2 separate regions of the Homo sapiens genome follow, and region 1 is linked to region 2. Evidence: fine-mapped expression QTL. A gene starts in region 2. The other region holds a variant in brackets. All regions are shown on one strand. Distances are between the middles of the regions. Region 1 overlaps MINK1 (misshapen like kinase 1). Region 2 holds the start of CHRNE (cholinergic receptor nicotinic epsilon subunit).

What was found. PIP is the estimated chance that this variant, and not a neighbour inherited with it, causes the effect. A credible set is the group of variants that fine-mapping cannot tell apart.
Region 1: its variant is the best candidate, but not a certain one, in a credible set for the expression of CHRNE in whole blood (TOPMed, PIP 0.71).

What each region holds. Positions count from the first base shown.
Region 1 is chr17:4,850,343-4,858,668 of GRCh38, forward strand. All of the region lies in intron 1 of MINK1 (misshapen like kinase 1), which reads left to right. It also overlaps the pseudogene ATP6V0CP1. Among named protein-coding and RNA genes, the nearest start is that of MINK1, 21 kb to the left of the region's middle. RefSeq lists enhancers at 1-37, 3,504-4,455. The variant C/A (reference allele first, on the strand shown) is at 4,537.
Region 2 is chr17:4,898,953-4,907,266 of GRCh38, forward strand. It overlaps CHRNE (cholinergic receptor nicotinic epsilon subunit), which reads right to left and starts at 4,146. Exons shown (of 12, transcript NM_000080.4): 1 at 4,066-4,146; 2 at 3,669-3,811; 3 at 3,498-3,542; 4 at 3,265-3,374; 5 at 2,980-3,135; 6 at 2,573-2,673; 7 at 2,038-2,238; 8 at 1,841-1,955; 9 at 516-630; 10 at 246-432; 11 at 49-155. The coding sequence starts at 4,111. It overlaps C17orf107 (chromosome 17 open reading frame 107), which reads left to right and starts at 584. Exons shown (of 3, transcript NM_001145536.2): 1 at 584-876; 2 at 984-1,193; 3 at 1,285-3,982. The coding sequence starts at 811. The coding sequence ends at 1,581. RefSeq lists silencers at 181-330, 351-460, 4,682-4,976 and enhancers at 661-970, 2,858-3,499, 3,500-4,141, 4,331-4,550.

The DNA of each region.
Region 1 (8,326 bases), 49 kb before region 2:
GCTCCATCCTGCTGGTCAGGAAGTTCCCCTTCTGTCTCACCTGCGTCTCTTCAGCTGTAATTTATCCTGGGTTGGTCCTTGGTGGGGCCAGAGAATATCTGGTCTCCACCCTTTGGAGAGTAACCCTGTTCTTTCTCAGAGTGTGATTCAGACAGTCCTTCCTCCCCTTCCTGCTGGCCCCCCCCGCCCTCTACCTGTTCTTCCTACAGCTGACTCAGCTTCACACCCTCTCCCTCTCCTTCCAGGATCTCTTTTCCTGTCCCCTTGTCCTTCAGAGCTTTCCTTCCTAAGTTTTCTCTCATGGCCTGTCATTGGTCTTCTGGAATTCGAAATCATATGGGTACAGGTCACAAGTTTTCTTGGTCATGAAGCTTCTCTAGTCTCTTCCTTGGGTTTGTGGACACCTGACTCCCACAGAAGGAGGCTGGCAATAAGATATAATGATCTGTTTGTGCTGCAATTGAAAACCAGCAGCAAGAAGCCTTATTATTATCCAACCCCTCATTACTAGTGTTGTCCTCCTCCGTTAGCTTGGTATCTGCCAGCCTGAACGGGCCTGGCATCTCCTTTCTGCCCCCTCCCACTGCCATGCTGTGCCCTTCCTTGCTCTCTCTGGTGTCTGCTTCCCAGGGACTGGCCCTCCTCCCTGCCCCTGTCAGCCTGCCTCCGAGGCCACAGATCTGGTTTTCCTCCCTTCTGTCTCACCTGCCTTCCTCTCAATTCTACTTTTTATCTTGTTTCTTCTCTCCTGAACTGCCACACTTCACCCTAAATCCCAGTAACGCCAACAGTTTTGGTAAATCACTTTTTGCCACAGTTTTGCCTTGCTTTGTGGGAGCCAGTTTCTTCATAATGACTCTATGCAAATTTGTAGCATTTTATGGATTTTAAAATGTTTCCACATCGGTGAATTCTTGTGAAATGGGCCTGGGTAGATAAGGAAAAGAACCTCCAAGAGGTTAAGTGATTTGCGGATTTGCCTAAATTATACAGAAGAGTCAGAACCAGTGCCCAGGCCTTCTGATTCTTAGTGCAGTAAACACTAAGCACCATCATTCCATTTCACCACACTCCTGTCTTGCTGTTGTCCTCAGCTAAGAAAGCCTACCCCTGAGTTACCCTCTTCCATCTTAGAGCCTTCCTGCTCGCTGTCTGCCCCCCTGCGATGGGGACTTCTTTGGCCCTTCTCACCCAGCCCAGCCTCTGCCCGTTTCCTTCTCCTTTCCACTGCGCTGAGCTCTTTTCTCCTCCGAGAAGCCTTCCCTTCATCTCTCCTGGCCCCATTGTCTCCCGACCTCTTTGGGCCATTATTAGTGTTCCCGTGTGGTTTTTGCCAACCACGTAGGAATTCCCTGCCTTAAGAAAGTCCACTCTCGGGCCGTGCGTGGTGGCTCACGCCTGTAATCCCAGCACTTTAGGAGGCCAAGGTGGGTGGATCACCTGAGGTCAGGAGTTCAAGACCAGCCTGACCAACAAGGTAAACCCTGTCTCTACTAAAAATACAAAAATTAGCCGGGTGTGGTGGCTTGTGCCTGTAATCCCAACTACTTGGGAGGCTGGGACAGGAGAATCACTTGAATCGGGGAGGCAGAGGATGCGGTGAGCTGAGATCACCCCACTGCACTCCAGCCTGGGCAACAGAGTGAGACTCTGTCTCAAAAAAAAAAAAAAAAAAAAAAAAAAAACTAAGAAAGTCCACTCTCTGGTAAAACATTTACCAAGCATATAAATTATGAGGTGCTGATTCATATGACAAAAAGGAGATTCACTTTTAGTAGCTGCTCTAATGCATTCCACTTAAGTGAATATTCAAGGATTATTTTGGAAGGATGGAGATAATCCAAAACTAGTGTGAGAAACTGCTGCATTAAGGAAGGAGGGAGGTTTTTCTAGATAACTGCTGCATTAAGGAAGGAGGGAGGTTTTTCTTTTATTTCTGTATTCATTCATTCCACAGACAGGTATTGAGGGCAGCCCTGACCTCCAAGAACTTAGTCTAGCAGAGGAGACAGATAAGAGAATCAATCACAAAAATGTAATTGGTGTCACGAAAGAGTCAGTACAGGGTATTGTGGGAGGAGAGGATTGTGAGGGGCACTTCCTGGAGGTGACATTGTCTCAGTGGAGGTCGGGAGGCACAGGCACGAGGCATCCAGGTAAAGAGGAGGAGAGTGATGAACAGCATGTGGAGACCCAGGAGTGAGAAGGAACAGAGAGAAAGCCACTAGTTAGTGCAGTGTTCCTGCCCCTCTGCCTCATCCCCACACCAGCAAGAACCAAAAGGCACCAGCATGAGAATTGGCAAGGCTCCAGGTAAACCATAGCTGGGATATTCAGCTGTACAGCAGTCATATGTGAGCCTGAGGAAGAACCTGTTTGGCCCACAGAGGGAGACAGAATCTACTGGGTGGGGGGGGTGTGATTTGTGGGGGAGTGTGGTTGATGGGTGGAGTGTGTTTGGTGGGGGAGTGTGGTTTGTGGGGGAGTGTGGTTGGTGGGGGAGTGTGGTTGGTGGGGGAGTGTGGTTGGTGGGGGAGTGTGATTTGTGGGGGAGTGTGGTTGGTGGGGGAGTGTGGTTGTTGGGGGGAGTGTGGTTGAGGGGGAGTGTGGTTGGTGGGGAGTGTGGTTGGTGGAGGAGTGTGATTGATGGGGGAGTGTGGTTGGTGGGGGGAGTGTGGTTGGTGGGGAGAGTGTGGTTGAGGGGGAGTGTGGTTGGTGGGGGGAGTGTGGTTGATGGGGGGAGTGTGGTTGGTGGGGGAAGTGTGGTTGGGGGAGTGTGGTGGGGGGAGTGTGGTTGGTGGGGGAGTGTGGTTGGTGGGGGAGTGTGGTTGAGGGGGAGTGTGGTTGGTGGGGGGAGTGTGGTTGGTGGGGGGAGTGTGGTTGGTGAGGGAGTGTGGTTGGTGGGAAGAGTGTGGTTGGTGGGGGGAATGTGGTTGGTAGGTAGAGTGGTTGGTGGGGGAGTGTGGTTGGTGGGAAGAGTGTGGTTGGTGGGGGAGTGTGGTTGGTGGGAAGAGTGTGGTTGGGGGGAGTGTGGTTGGTGGGAAGAGTGTGGTTGGGGGAGTGTGGTTGGTGGAGTGTGGTTGAGGGGGAGTGTGGTTGGTGGGGGGAGTGTGGTTGGTGGGAAGAGTGTGGTTGGTGGGGGAGTGTGGTTGTTGCTGTGTGCCATCGGAAGGCTATGCAAGTTTGAGCGCTTGCTTCACCTTGACAAACATTTCACTTGTTAGAGCCCTGGCTTTCTCATCTGTGCTCTGAGCTAGTCATTCCTGCCAAGCTTCCCTGCAGGTTTAAGTGCAGATGCAGTCATGACTGTGAAAGCACCCTGTGAACTGTAAAGTCTGGGCAGTTGGGTGGTGGTAGGAGAGGCAGCAACTGTGAGAGGATGAACTTGATTCTGCTGATCTCGGACGGAAACTGATTCTTGGGAGAGAGACAGAATCAAACGGCTCTGACATTTGAAAAGCCATGGCCTCGCTTACCTACAGTGAGACTTGAGAAGAAGTGCTGGGGAGGTAAAGGCTGAGATACCACCTCCGCTGCCTGAAAGACTTTGCAAGATACTCCAGCTGGGGATAGGAGATGGCTAGAATGACCTCCAACTATCTTCACACCCGAGGCTGGGGCTGCCCTTCCAGGCCTGCAGTTCTGTATTTTCCCTTAGAAGGTTCTGGAGGCAGACGGAACCTCAGAAGCAAACGGTTTATTTTTTAGGTTTTTCAGTTTATTTTTAAATTTCTGACTGTGATGGTGTTTATTTTTTCCTTTTCCCTTTCCCCACTTCCCCGGCTCAGCATCAGAAAGGGACCATCTGTCCGTTGCCTTGCTGTGGCCATTTTAGAACCAGCGCAAGGCTGCTTGAATCTGGTCCCCTCTTCTCCCTCACTCCCTCCCCCACCACCTGGCTTTCTCTACTCTGCACTGCCTGCTTTCATCCAGCTCCCTCCAGGTGTCAGCTGCCACCTCTTATAGGCCTCCATCTGTGAAGACCTCCAGGCTGAGTCCAGCCACCAGACCAGGGCCCCTGTCTGAGGCAGCCAGATCTGTGGGGAACCTAGACATGGAGGCAGCAAAATTACCCTTTGAGAGGAGGAGGGGAATAAATTCCAGTCTCCTTGCTCCAGGCAGGGCCCCTCTGCTCTGACTGGTTTCTGATGAGAATGGTATGTGTATTCATGTATGTGTCATGTCCTGACTTGTTTCTGCCTCTGCATGTACCTGCAAGTCAGTGTGTGTGTGCATGCGTGTGTCTCACACATCCCTCTGGCATAGAGATCCATGAGTGATTTATAAACTGCCTTTCCTCCCATCACATAAATATTTTTCCTGGTTTCTTCGCCTTCCTTCTACTTCTAGAACTGGCCTGATTTCCTCCCCTCCAGTGCTTCATTCCCATAAAAACACTTCAAAACACAGGTAGCCATCGATAGACAGAGGACAAGTACTTCACGTTGTGGATTCAGAATAAAAAGATCCGGTTGAGTTCCACAGTGTGAGAGGCAGGGTTAGCAGAGTGGAGAGTCTGTTTCAGAGAGTAAGAAG[C/A]GCTGAGAAAAGGAGTTTTTTTGAAGGCTTCATTAAAAAGAGTCCAGGCTGGGCGCGGTGGCTCCCGCCTATAGTCCCAGCACTTTGGGAGGCCCAGGTGGGCAGATCACTTGAGGTCAGCAATTCGAGACCAGCCTGGCCAACATGGTGAAACCCCATCTCTACTAAAAATACAAAAGATTAGCCGGGCGTGGTGGTGGGCGCCTATAGTCCCAGCTATTACTATACTTAGGAAGCTGAGGCAGGAGAATTGCTTGAACCTAGAAGGGGAGGTTGCAGTGAGCTGAGATTGTGCCACCACACTCCTGTCTTAAAAAAAAAAAAAAGGCCAGGCATGGTGGCTCACACCTGTAATCCCAGCACTTTGGGAGGCTGAGGCAGGTGGATCACGAGGTCAGGAGATCAAGACCATCCTGGCTAACAAGGTGAAACCCCGTCTCTACTAAAAATACAAAAAATTAGCTGGGCGTGGTGGCGGGCGCCTGTAGTCCCAGCTACTCAGGAGGCTGAGGCAGGAGAATGGCGTGAACCTCGGAGGTGGAGCTTGCAGTGAGCTGAGATTGTGGCATTGCACTCCAGCCTGGGCGACAGAGCGAGACTCCATCTCAAAAAAAAAAAAAAAGGCCGGGCACAGTGGCTCATGCCTGTAATCCCAGCACTTTGGGAGGCCGAGGCGGGCGGATCATGAGGTCAGAAGGTTGAGACAGCAGTGAAACCCCATATCTACTAAACATACAAAAAATTAGCCGAGTGTGGTGGCAGGTGCCTGTAGTCCCAGCTACTCGGGAGGCTGAGGCAGGAGAATGGCGTGAACCTGGGAGGCGGAGGTTGCAGTGAGCCGAGATCGCGCCACTGCACTCCAGCCTGGGCGACAGAGCAAGACTCCGTCTCAAAAAAAAAAAAAAAAAAGAAAGAAACCCCATCTCTACTAAAAATACAAAAAAAATCAGCTGGATGTGGTAGCAGGCACCTGTAATCCCAGCTACTCAGGAGGCTGAGGCGGGAGAATCACTTGAACCTGGGAGATGGAAGTTGCAGTGAGCTGAGATCATGCCACTGCACTCCAGCCTGGGTGACAAAAGCGAGACTCTATCTCAAAAAAAAAAAAAAAGTCCAGTTGATGGTGGTATATCATGGACAGTAGGAAATTGATGAGGGTATCAGCCTGCCTTCTCTCTTCCTTTCATTTGCTCAGTGGAGAGATGCTGGTGACCCCTTCTCCTTCTCTCGCCATAGGAACATTTAATCTGTCTCATGCTTTGGCTTTGGGCCTGCCATTCACCCCAAGCACCTTGGGGTATAAGTGGGGATGATGCTGTCTACCTGCTTCCTAGTTGGCTCTGGGGTAAATGGAGACTTCTTCAGGCCTGGGAGGCCACCTCCCATTGAGAAAGGCAAGCATCTCGCGCTCTACTTACCCTCTGGGTCCTTGAGGGGCTGTGTCCAGTATCTCTGCTTGGGTAGGAAGGAGGTGATCTTATCAGACTTTTCCTGCCACTTCCCTGTCTCCAGCTCACACACCCACTCCCGTTTTCTCTCTCTTACGTACTCACACTCTCTTTTTTTTTTCTTTCCCTCCCCCGACATCTGAGAACTTTATCAGACACAGCTGCCGCACAGGGCCTGGCAGCGCGGGCTGGAGAGGGTGGTTCCATCCAAGGAGCCTCCGCAATGGGAACCTCCATGACGTGACAGATAGGTGGGAGATGAGGGCTGCTCCACAGGGGTATGGACAGGCCAAATCTTTATAAATATCTAATGAAGAGAAAATGACAACTCTAATTCATCCTTATACATAGAGTACTCAAGGGAGATGGGTGGGGCATCCAGGGGCCTGAGTCCTCACTGGTCGGGGACCTGGATGGGTGATGAGTAGGTTCAGATGTCCACAGCATGGGGCGGGAGGGGGCAAGGCCTGGCCAACAGACGATGAACACGAGGACACTGTACACTTAGAAGATCAACTACTGAGGGCCAGCTGCCCAGCACATGCGTGTCAGGCTGTTTGTTCCGGAATGAGGAGGGGTGGTCTTTACATCGTATTCTGTGACTGGTGGGTTTTGAGAGGGGCTGCTTTGTGGAGAGAATGAGCACCTTGGCAAAGATGAGGATCAGTATCATGCCTACAAATAGTCGGGGCTGCTGGGCAGTGCCACACTTGCCAGTGTCCCCCACGATGACGATGGCAAAGCCGGCTGCCAGGCCACTCAGGCCAGCGCCCAGCTGGAGGAAACTGCTATAGAGACTGTTGTCATCATTCAGGGAGTTGGCAGGGGGGACAGCCGCCACTAGGCCATAGATGGTGATGATACCAGCCATGACCACTGGGATGATGGACTTCATGTGGATCAGCTCTGGCCACATGACAGACATGGCCATGATGCCGGTGCCATTCTTGGCCATGCCACAGGCAGCACCCAGGCCACTGGAGACCATGGTGGCCATAGCACCCGAGATGGTGAAAACCAAAGCATACTCGGGGCTGTTGTTGGACATGTCTGTGAGTGGGGAGGGGGACAAGGATGGGCATGGCAGAGAGTGAGTGCAAAGACAGTGGACTAGTGGCAGCAAAGATGCTGGTTTTTTTTTTTTTTTTTTTTTTTTTTGAGATGGAGTGTCACTCTGTAGCCCAAGCTGGAATGCAATGGTGCGATCTCAGCTCACTTCAACCTCTGCCTCCAGGGCTCAAGCCATTCTCATGCCTCAGCCTCCCGAGTAGCTGGAACTATAGGCACGCACCACCATGCCCAGCTAATTTTTTGTATTTTTAGTAGAGATGGGGTTTCACCATGTTGCCCCGTATGGTCTCAAACTCCTGAGCTCAGGCAATCCGCCAGCCTTGGCATCCCAAAGTGCTGCGATTATAGGGGTGAGCCACCGCGCCCAGCCAAGATGCTCTTTCTTACCACACACACACCCTCCTATTTCTTTTCTTATGCACACACACAGACACACACACAGCCTTTAGCTACTCCTAATTGAAGGGTGCCTAAGACACCACCCTTCTGTCAGAATACTTGCCCCTACTTCCAAATCTCTGCCAGTACTGTATCCTTGTGGAACTTAACTTAAATTGTTGGGGAGACCCCATCTGTCCTTTGTCTCTCAGGCCCTTATCCCTTCCCCTGTGGTGGCTTCAGAATATCTCCTACAGATGGGGTTTAGGGTTAGTAATCTGGTGGTACTGGGGCTAAGGGATAGGTTTTAAAGCTCCATTTGCATAGCAGTCACTATTTTAACACTTAGATTGTTGGTGTTTTGGGGTGTCTTTAAGGGAGCTGATGAATTTATGGGAGGCTAAATATCCCCTCCCCCACTGGGTATAGCCACTGCCTTTGCCCCCCTCTTCCTCTCTGTGTGGGCCTTCTGGATTACAGGAAGAGCTCAGGAAAACAGGCCTATTGTTTTCATCTGGGAGGGGGGAGGGCCTCCCAGGCCAGCTCAGGCTCACTGTCCTTTGAACTGGTACCCGATAAACAGAGGCTCCAAGACGCTGGCAGCCTTGTTCTTCCAAGGCAAGGGAGTTATTTGGCTTGAGACTTTATTCTGTTCTGCCAGCTCTTGTTGGTTCCCTGTTTATTTTTTTTTAATTTAAATTTAATTTTTTTTTTTTTTTGAGACGAGGTCTTGCTCTGTTGCCCAGGCTGGAGTGCAGTGGTGCAGTCTCGGCTCACTGCAACCTCCGCCTCCCAGTCTCAAGTGATTCTCATGCCTTACCCTCCTGAGTAGCTGGGATTACAGGCATGCACTACCATGCCCAGCTAATTTTTGTATTTGTAATAGAGATGGG
Region 2 (8,314 bases):
AGTGGTGGGCCTCTGCCTCGCTCCACCCGCCTCTGGCTCCTGTCCCACCTCGCCGGTGGCCTCCTGATCTCTCGTGCTCTCGGCCACGAAGTTCACGGCATCCACACAGCAGCGGACCTCGGGGGCGGCGGCGCCCAGGCTCTGGCAGAAGGCAGCTGGCGGGGAAAACACCGGGGTGGGCCTTAGGAGCCTCCCCCCTGGCAGGCACCCCGCGCGGCCCCCCGGGCCAGGGCCACTGTGCTCACCCGTCCAGGTCCCCTGCCGGTGCCTCTGCCCCTCAAACACGAGCTCGCTCCGTGGCTTTTTCAGTATCAGCTCCTCCGCGCGGAGCAATAAGCCCACCGACGACGCCCGCCTTGGGGGCGAGGCGGCCCGGGGGGCCTCGGGCGGCGGCGGGGAGCCCAGGAGGCGCGGCAGCAGCTCCAGGAGAACCTGGGGCAGGGGCGGGGCTTAGGGGACGAGGTTAGTACGAAGCCCCACCCCGACCCGGGCTGCACCGCCCCCTCCGCGCTTACGTGGCGCAGCCGCGGGGACATGGCGTGGGTGGTGGGCGTCCGCTGGGACACGTTGAGCACGATGACGCAATTCATGACAATGAGCGTGGCGACCACCATGACGAAAATAAGGAACCTGAGGAGCCCGGAAGGCATGACATCACCGTTCCTCCTCCCAGCTACCGAAGGCGCCGCGCGCTGACCTCACAAACACGGCTTCTCCTGGTACGGGCTGGTTACGCCCTCCAGCTGCGCCCCCTACACGACGACAGACGCGTCCCCCAGCCCTTCTCCTGTCCTACCACTTGTGGCGGCCATGAAGGGGACCCCCAGCTCCCTGGACACCCTGATGTGGATCTACCACTTCCACAGCTCCACCGAGGTGAGGCTACGCCCGCCAAGGGCTGCACCTCGAGACCTTCTGGGTAGGTCTCCTGTTCGCCCCTGTGACCCCTGCCCTGCTACTCTACTGCTCTGCTCCTTCTCCAGGTGGCCCTCCAGCCCCCGCTTCTGTCTTCCCTGGAACTCTCCGTGGCCGCAGCCCATGAATATCTGGAGCAGAGGTTCAGAGAGCTGAAGTCCCTGGAGCCACCCGAACCGAAGATGCAGGGGATGCTGCCTGCCCCGAAGCCCACCCTGGGGCTGGTGTTGAGAGAAGCCACAGCCAGCCTCGTGAGCTTCGGCACCACCTTGTTAGAGGTGGGGTACTGGGGGGCTTAGGATACGCGGCGATCGGGTAGCGGGAACAAGGACCTCTGCCTCCCCGCTAACCCCTGTGCCCCCAATGCAGATCTCAGCCCTGTGGCTGCAGCAGGAGGCGCGGCGACTAGACGGCAGCGCGGGCCCAGCCCCAGACGGCAGGGATCCGGGTGCAGCGCTGAGCCGGGTAGCCCAAGCCGCAGGGCAGGGGGTTCGGCAAGCTGGGGCTGCGGTGGGCGCCAGCGCCCGGCTCCTAGTCCAGGGAGCATGGCTATGCCTGTGTGGACGGGGTCTGCAGGGGTCTGCCTCATTCCTGCGACAGTCGCAACAGCAGCTAGGCCTCGGAATCCCCGGAGAACCGGTGAGCTCAGGACACGGGGTGAGTTAGGGGCCAGAGGCGGCGGGGCTAGGGAGGCACTGAGCCGGACTGTCCCCCAAGAGAGCTACTCGGGAGACCTCCAGGTGACGTCCAGCAGCAGTGAGGAGGACGGCGGACCAGGGACTCCATCCCCGTACCAGCCCCACCCAGCGTCCGAATAAAGCCCAGGGCGGGGCGAGACAGCCAGAGCTTTTCCCGGGGTCTCTGGGTTTTGGCCACGCCCCCACCCTTCACACTGGCCACACCCCCGCGGGGGCTCCGGCTTCACCTGCCCAGGAGCGGCACGCTCAGAGAAGTCTCTGGGATTTTCTGGGCAATGAGGAACAAGAAGACGGTCTGGGCGAGCAGGACGTTGATGGAGACCGTGCATTTCTGGCCGCCGGCTGGAGGGAGAGCCAGTGAGAGCGGGCCCCGCCTCCCGGGAGCGAGCCCGGGTTTGGGGGTAGGTTCGGGGCCACTGCTTACCCTGCGCCGGCAGGAAGTAGGCGAGCAGCACCAGGCCCGAGATGAGCACACAGGGCACGATGATGTTAATGACGTAGAAGAGCGGCTTCCGGCGGATGATGAGCGAGTAGATGACGTCAGTCTCCCCTGGGCCGTCGGTGGCGCCACCGTGGTGGCGGCGGATCACCCCCGGGCAGAAGTCGATGGCCCACTCGCCGTTCTCTGCGGGACGGGGGCACGGTCAGCTGGCTGTCAGAGCGGGGCGCCCGCCGAGCTGACAGCGGGCTGAAGAGGAGGCTGCGGCTGTCTGCACCAGGGTCATGGGCCGTCAGGATGGGGGCAATTACGGACAGAAAAGGGCATTCTCGTTGAGGGTATGGAAAGCCAGAAGGCAGGACTAGAGTAACAATCGAGAATGATTTCAGGACAGGGGTAAGCTAAACCCAGTTGTGGAAGTCATCCTCCAGTGTCGTTGGTCCGGGGCAAGCCCACCGTGGAAGTCCCCTCTCTGGACCCCGTCTAGAAGCGGGTTTTTCTGAGCAGGCAGGGGCTTCACCAGTATAGGCCTCTGTGTCGATGTCGATCTTGTTGATGGTCTTGCCGTCGTTGTCTACGGCAAAAGTGAACTCCACCTCTTCGGCATTGTACGTCTGAGAGCTGCGGAGCCAGGGCCGGGAGCCCACCCCAGAAGCTCTGACCTGGGCCCCGGCCTCAGGCCCAGCCCTGGAAGCTGGGATCTAGCGGGGCCGCGATCCCAAGCCCACCCCTTCACCCAAGCCCAGCCCGCACGCCTCTGTTCCCATCTGTACCTCCGGCCGCGCTGGAGCGTCCCACCCAGTGCCTACGCCTGGCTCCGCCTCCAGCGCGAAGCCCCGCCCCGAGGGCGGTGCTTCCCGGTTGGCCCCGCCCCATAAGGCCCCCCCCCAACAATAATCGTCCGGGCCTCGGAGTAGCTCTTCCCACCGGAAAATAAGCGAACAGTTCTGCCAATCGAAGGGGAAGTAGGTGACCTCCACTGCGCAGACGCTGCGGTAGATGGCCGGAGGCAGCCACGTCACGGAGCCGCCCTCGTAGACGAGCACGTTGGCGTCGTAGGCCACTCCGAACTGGCCATCAATACTGTGGGCTCGGGGAAACCGAGCTTTTTGCACAGGTCTGCACCCTCTCAGAGTACCCCCTTCCCCAACCAAGTCCAGCCCGCACCCCAGGCCGGCTTCCCTCCAGCCTGGCGTCTGGCCCGGTTCTCACTTGTTTTCCAGCACAATCTCTGGCAGCCACACGAGTTCTGAAGGGACTCGCAGGGTTTCTATACCCCCAAAGTCGTCCTTGCTGTAGTTGAGTCGGTAATCCTGCCAATCCTAAGGGGTGGGGGATGGAAGGCCGCGTGCCCTGCATCTCCCACCTGGCGCTGCCTGGGAGGGGTTTGGGGGAAAAGGGGTGCCCTGGACAAGACCTCACACCATTCCCCAGATTTGACTCACGATTCCAATCCAGACGCTAGTGGTGAGAGTCTCCTCTTTTTCATTCTGCAGATGGGAGATGGGGATGATTGAAGTGAGATTTCAGGGCCAGAAGTGAGCTTTAGGACAGAGCTCAGCGGTTGGGGCCAGAAGTGGGATTTTTGGCTTAAGATGAGGGTGGGGGTAGCTTACCAGTGAGATGAGATTCGTCAGGGTGACCTTGAGGCTGATGGTGACAGTATCCTCAGGCTCCCGCACTGGCCGGCTTCCTGGGTCATAGTTGTTGAAGAGATGGTGATAAAGACGCAGTTCCTCGTTCTTCCCCACACCCCTGCCTGCGATGGGGTCAAGAAGGAAGGGTCATTGGCAATGAAGAGGCTGGAGCACCTCTCTCCCCTCTGCCTCCCCTGGGTCCTCACAGGCCTCTGAGGCTGTGTACTATCAGTATCTGTCTCCTAAACCAATTATGCTGTGCCTGGGAACGAAATACTGTGTCTAAGTCTCCATCTTGGTCTCTGTCTTTGTCTTCCCAGTCCCTTCATGTCAGTATCTGTGTGTGTCCAATTGCCCCTCTAGCCCCTGTCCGTACCGAGAAGCCCCAAGAGGAGCAGGACCCCAAGCGGAGCCCTTGCCATCCTGCTGCGTGGTTCTCAGGGTTATTCTGAGCTCTGGCAGGCTTGGAGGGGGCATGCCAGGGTGCCTGTGTGAGGGGGAGGAGGGTGTTAGTTCCGGGCTGTTAGGGGACTGTCACCTAATCCTCTGCTCACCCCTGCTGCAGCTGGGGACATTTTGGCTGCTTCCAGAGGCAGCTGCCCCATCCTGTGTTTCCTGCCCCTGCCCCGCCCCAGCCCAGCGTCCTTTGCCTGGTATTTGGCCAACTCCCCAGCCACAGATGTGGGCGTCTCCTGAGAGGCACCTGCAACCACAATTCTAGTAGCAGGGGGTGGGAGACACTGCTTTCAGCAGGCACTGTTGTCCTTTGAGTAAGCTGCCCTGTGTAGGTGACCCTGACTGATGAACACATCTGGGGATGTGACACACCCCTTGCCTCCCATTCTCACCCATGTGGAACACACACTATCACCACCCAAGCTCACAATGCCTTTCTTGCCGACAGAGTGGCAAAAAACAGTCTCCATAAAGACCTGATAAAGAGACAGGTGGTCACAGGGGATTAGCCCTGCGGTACAGAGATTCCATCTAGCAAAGGAGATCATGTAAAGGACCCACCTCCTTCCACAACCTGATCGCCAGGTTTGCCCATGCCCAGCCCCTCTGGGTGGGAGACTTGTTTCTCCTTGTCTATCCCTGCTGCCACCTTGTGGTCACAGATGATAGTACCGTCTTCCCATCCTACTCTCCTAAACACACACGTGCACACATACACACACACCTGATGACACCTTAATAGATCCTTTTGATGTTCCTTTTTAAAAAAAATTTTTTTGAGACCAAGTCTCGCTCTGGCGCCCAGACTGGAGTGCAGTGGCATGATCTCGGCTCACTGCAACCTCCGCCTCCCGGGTTCAAGCGATTCTCCTGCCTCAACCTCTGGAGTAGCTGGGACTACAGGCGCATGCCACCATGCCCGGCTAATTTTTGTATTTTTTAGTAGAGATGGGGTTTCACCATGTTAGCCAGGATGGTCTCGATCTCCTGACCTCGTGAGCCACCTACCTGGGCCTCCCAAAGTGCTGGGATTATAGGCGTGAGCCACCGCGCCCAGCCTCGATGTTTTTTGTTTTTCTGTTTCTTTTTTTGTTTTTTGTTTTTTGCAGGGGGTGGGGGGACAGGATCTCACTCTGTCACCCAGACAGGAGTACAGTGGCACCACCATAGTTCACTGCGGCTCTCAAACTCCTGGGCTAAAGCGATCCTCCTGCCTCAGCTTCCCAAAGGGTTAGGATTACAGGTGTGAGCCACCACGCCCGGCCTCAGTGTTTTTTAAAGCCTTCTTGAACCATTCTAATCACCTGGAGGGGTGCTTATTTTAAATTCAGATTCCTAGGCTCCATTCCCAGAGAATTATGATTTCGGGACTAGGGTGCCAGGAATCTGTATTTTTAGGAAACTGTCCAGGTGTTCCTCGTGAGGTAGGAGGGGCTGGCCTAAGCATATTTTCTGCTTACATCTCATTTCCTCACAGCAGTCCAGCAAAGCAATGATCACTGTCCTGAATACATGAAAGGGGATGCTAAGGTCGGGATCCAGGGTCACACAAGTAGATTGGCAATAATGCATGAGACTTATCAATCAACTCTATTGATCTCGCACACCTGTGTTTATTTTACCCTTCACAAAACACTTTCGGGTCCATCACCTTTGGGTCTCCTTCCCCCACCTATGAGGTAGGTCATAATCACCTCCATGTTACAAGCGAGGACACATCAAATAACAGAGTGTCCTCCTAGTCCATTTCCCACACTTGTGTAAAGCCTCTGTTTCCACTGCTGCCTTATCAACCCCACGATTTCCATTTCAGACTCCCTTTCTGGGTCTCTTTGACCCAGCTTACCTCTTTGCATGTGGCTGGTACATGGACTAAGTCTCAAATCTGTGCTGCTGCTTATTCCAGAGCTTCCGCGTCAAGGCTTGGGACAAGAATTGTGATAAATGCAAATATTTATTCAAACATCAGTGGACACCTACAAAGTTCCCCCTTACAGGGCCGAGTGCTACGGTTATTGAGATGGATAAAACAAGCCTCAAGGAGTTATCATCTAATGACAGAGACCTATCAACAGCCAGTGATGCCAGACTATGAGAAGCATAAAAATAAACAGGTGCTATAGAATCTGTAGCTAGGGTGAATCAGATCTGTCAGAAAAGCAAGGTTTTGGCCAGGCACAGTGGCTCATGCCTGTAATCCTAACTATTTGGGAGGCTGAGGCTGGAGCATCACTTGAGCCCAGGAGTTCAAGACCAGCCTGGGCAACACAGTGAGACCCCCCATCTCTACAAAAATAAATAAACAACAACAAAAAATATTAGCCAGGCATCATGGTGCATGCCTGTAGTCCCAGCTACTTAGGAGGCTGAGGCGGGAGGATTGCTTGACCCTAAGAGATCAAGGACACAGTGAGCTACGATCACACTACACTCCAGCCTGGGTGACAAGCGAGACCCTATCTCAAAAAAATGAAGTTTCCGGCTGGATGCGGTGGCTCAACACCTGTAATCCCAGCACTTTGGGAGGCCAAGGCAGGTGGACCACCTGAGGTCAAGAGTTCGAGACCAGTCTGGCCAACATGGTGAAACCCCATCTCTACTAAAAACACAAAAATTAGCTGGGTGTGGTGGCTGGCACCTGTAATCCCAGCTACTCGGGAGGCTGAGGCAGGAGAATCACTTGAACCTGGGAGACGGAGGTTGCAGTGAGCCGAGATCGTGCCACTGCACTCCAGCCCGGGTGACAGAGTGAGACTCCATCTCAAAAAACAAAAAAATGAAGTTTCTCCTAGGTTTCCTGTAGTCTTGCACATGGACTGGAACTTACTAGACCAGTGTCAGAGGCCAAGGCAGCTCCAGAGCCTGTCTCCTGATCTGTCTCTGCCGCTCTGTCCGCTCTCTGCTCCTCTCACTTCGTCAGCACTGCCCATTCCCCCTACTTTGCATGTCCCCTTTCTACTGTGTAGTTTCTGCTTTCTCGTCACCTGTGCATCATTTCACCATGGTCTTAGCCCCAGACCAACTTCTTGGCTTCTCTCTGCAGAGGCAGCACTTTTGTTCCCGTTGCTACTGCCTGATGCTCTGAGGGCTTGGGGTGCCAACACTGAAGAAGGATCATGGGGTTGGCCTAAGACTGCCTTGTTTAGGATGGATAGTGGGTGTGGCAGGCCCTGACACCACATGTCTGGTAATTCACCCTCTAGCAACCCAGCCCACTTCTCCTATATGTTTAGCTCCCAAAACGGCCTGCCAGGATGCCATTCTCACTGCTAGAGCTGAAATATATACAAATATATGAAATATACATAAATTAATACAGTTAATATAAATTCACTCTATCCTCCCCAGCAGGATTCAAACTTGAAATCTTGCTTCAAAAAGTGATTATGAGAAAAAAAATCTAATAATCTGATCAAAAAGAGGGCAGAAGATTTGAATAGACGCTTCTCAAAATAAGACACACAAATGCCAAACAGGTATAAGAAAACGTGCTCAGCATCATTGGTCATCACTGGGAGGCTGAGGTAGGAGAATTGCTTGAGCCTGGGAGTTCAAGACCAGCCTGGGCAATATAGTGAGACCTCATCTGTAAATAAATAAATAAAATTTTAAAAAACAGATGAATGGTGAGCCAAGATCATGCCACTGCATCCTAGCCTGGGAAACAAGAGAGAAAACTGTTTAAAAAAAAAAGAAAAAAGAAAAACACAGATGAATGGATAAAGCAAATGTGGTACATATACACAATGGAGCACCATTCACCCATAAAAAAGGATGAGATCCTGTCATTTGCAACAACATGAATGGAACTGGAGATCATTATGTTAGGTGAAATAAGCCAGGCACAGAAAGACAATCATTGCATGTTCTCACTTATTTGTGGGAGTTAAAAATCAAAACAATTGACCTCATGGACATAGAGAGTAGAAGGATGGTTACCAGAGGCTGGGAAGGGTAGTGGGCAGGTAGGTGGATGGTGGGGATGGTTAATGGGTACAAAAAAAATAGAATAAGACCTACTATTTGATAGCACAACAGAGTGACTGTAGTCAATAATAATTTCATTGTACATGTTAAAAAAAACTTAAGAGTGTAATTGCATGGTTGGTAACTTAAAGGATAAATGATTGGGGGAATTAAAAAAAAAAGTGATTATGGCAAGGGTCCTT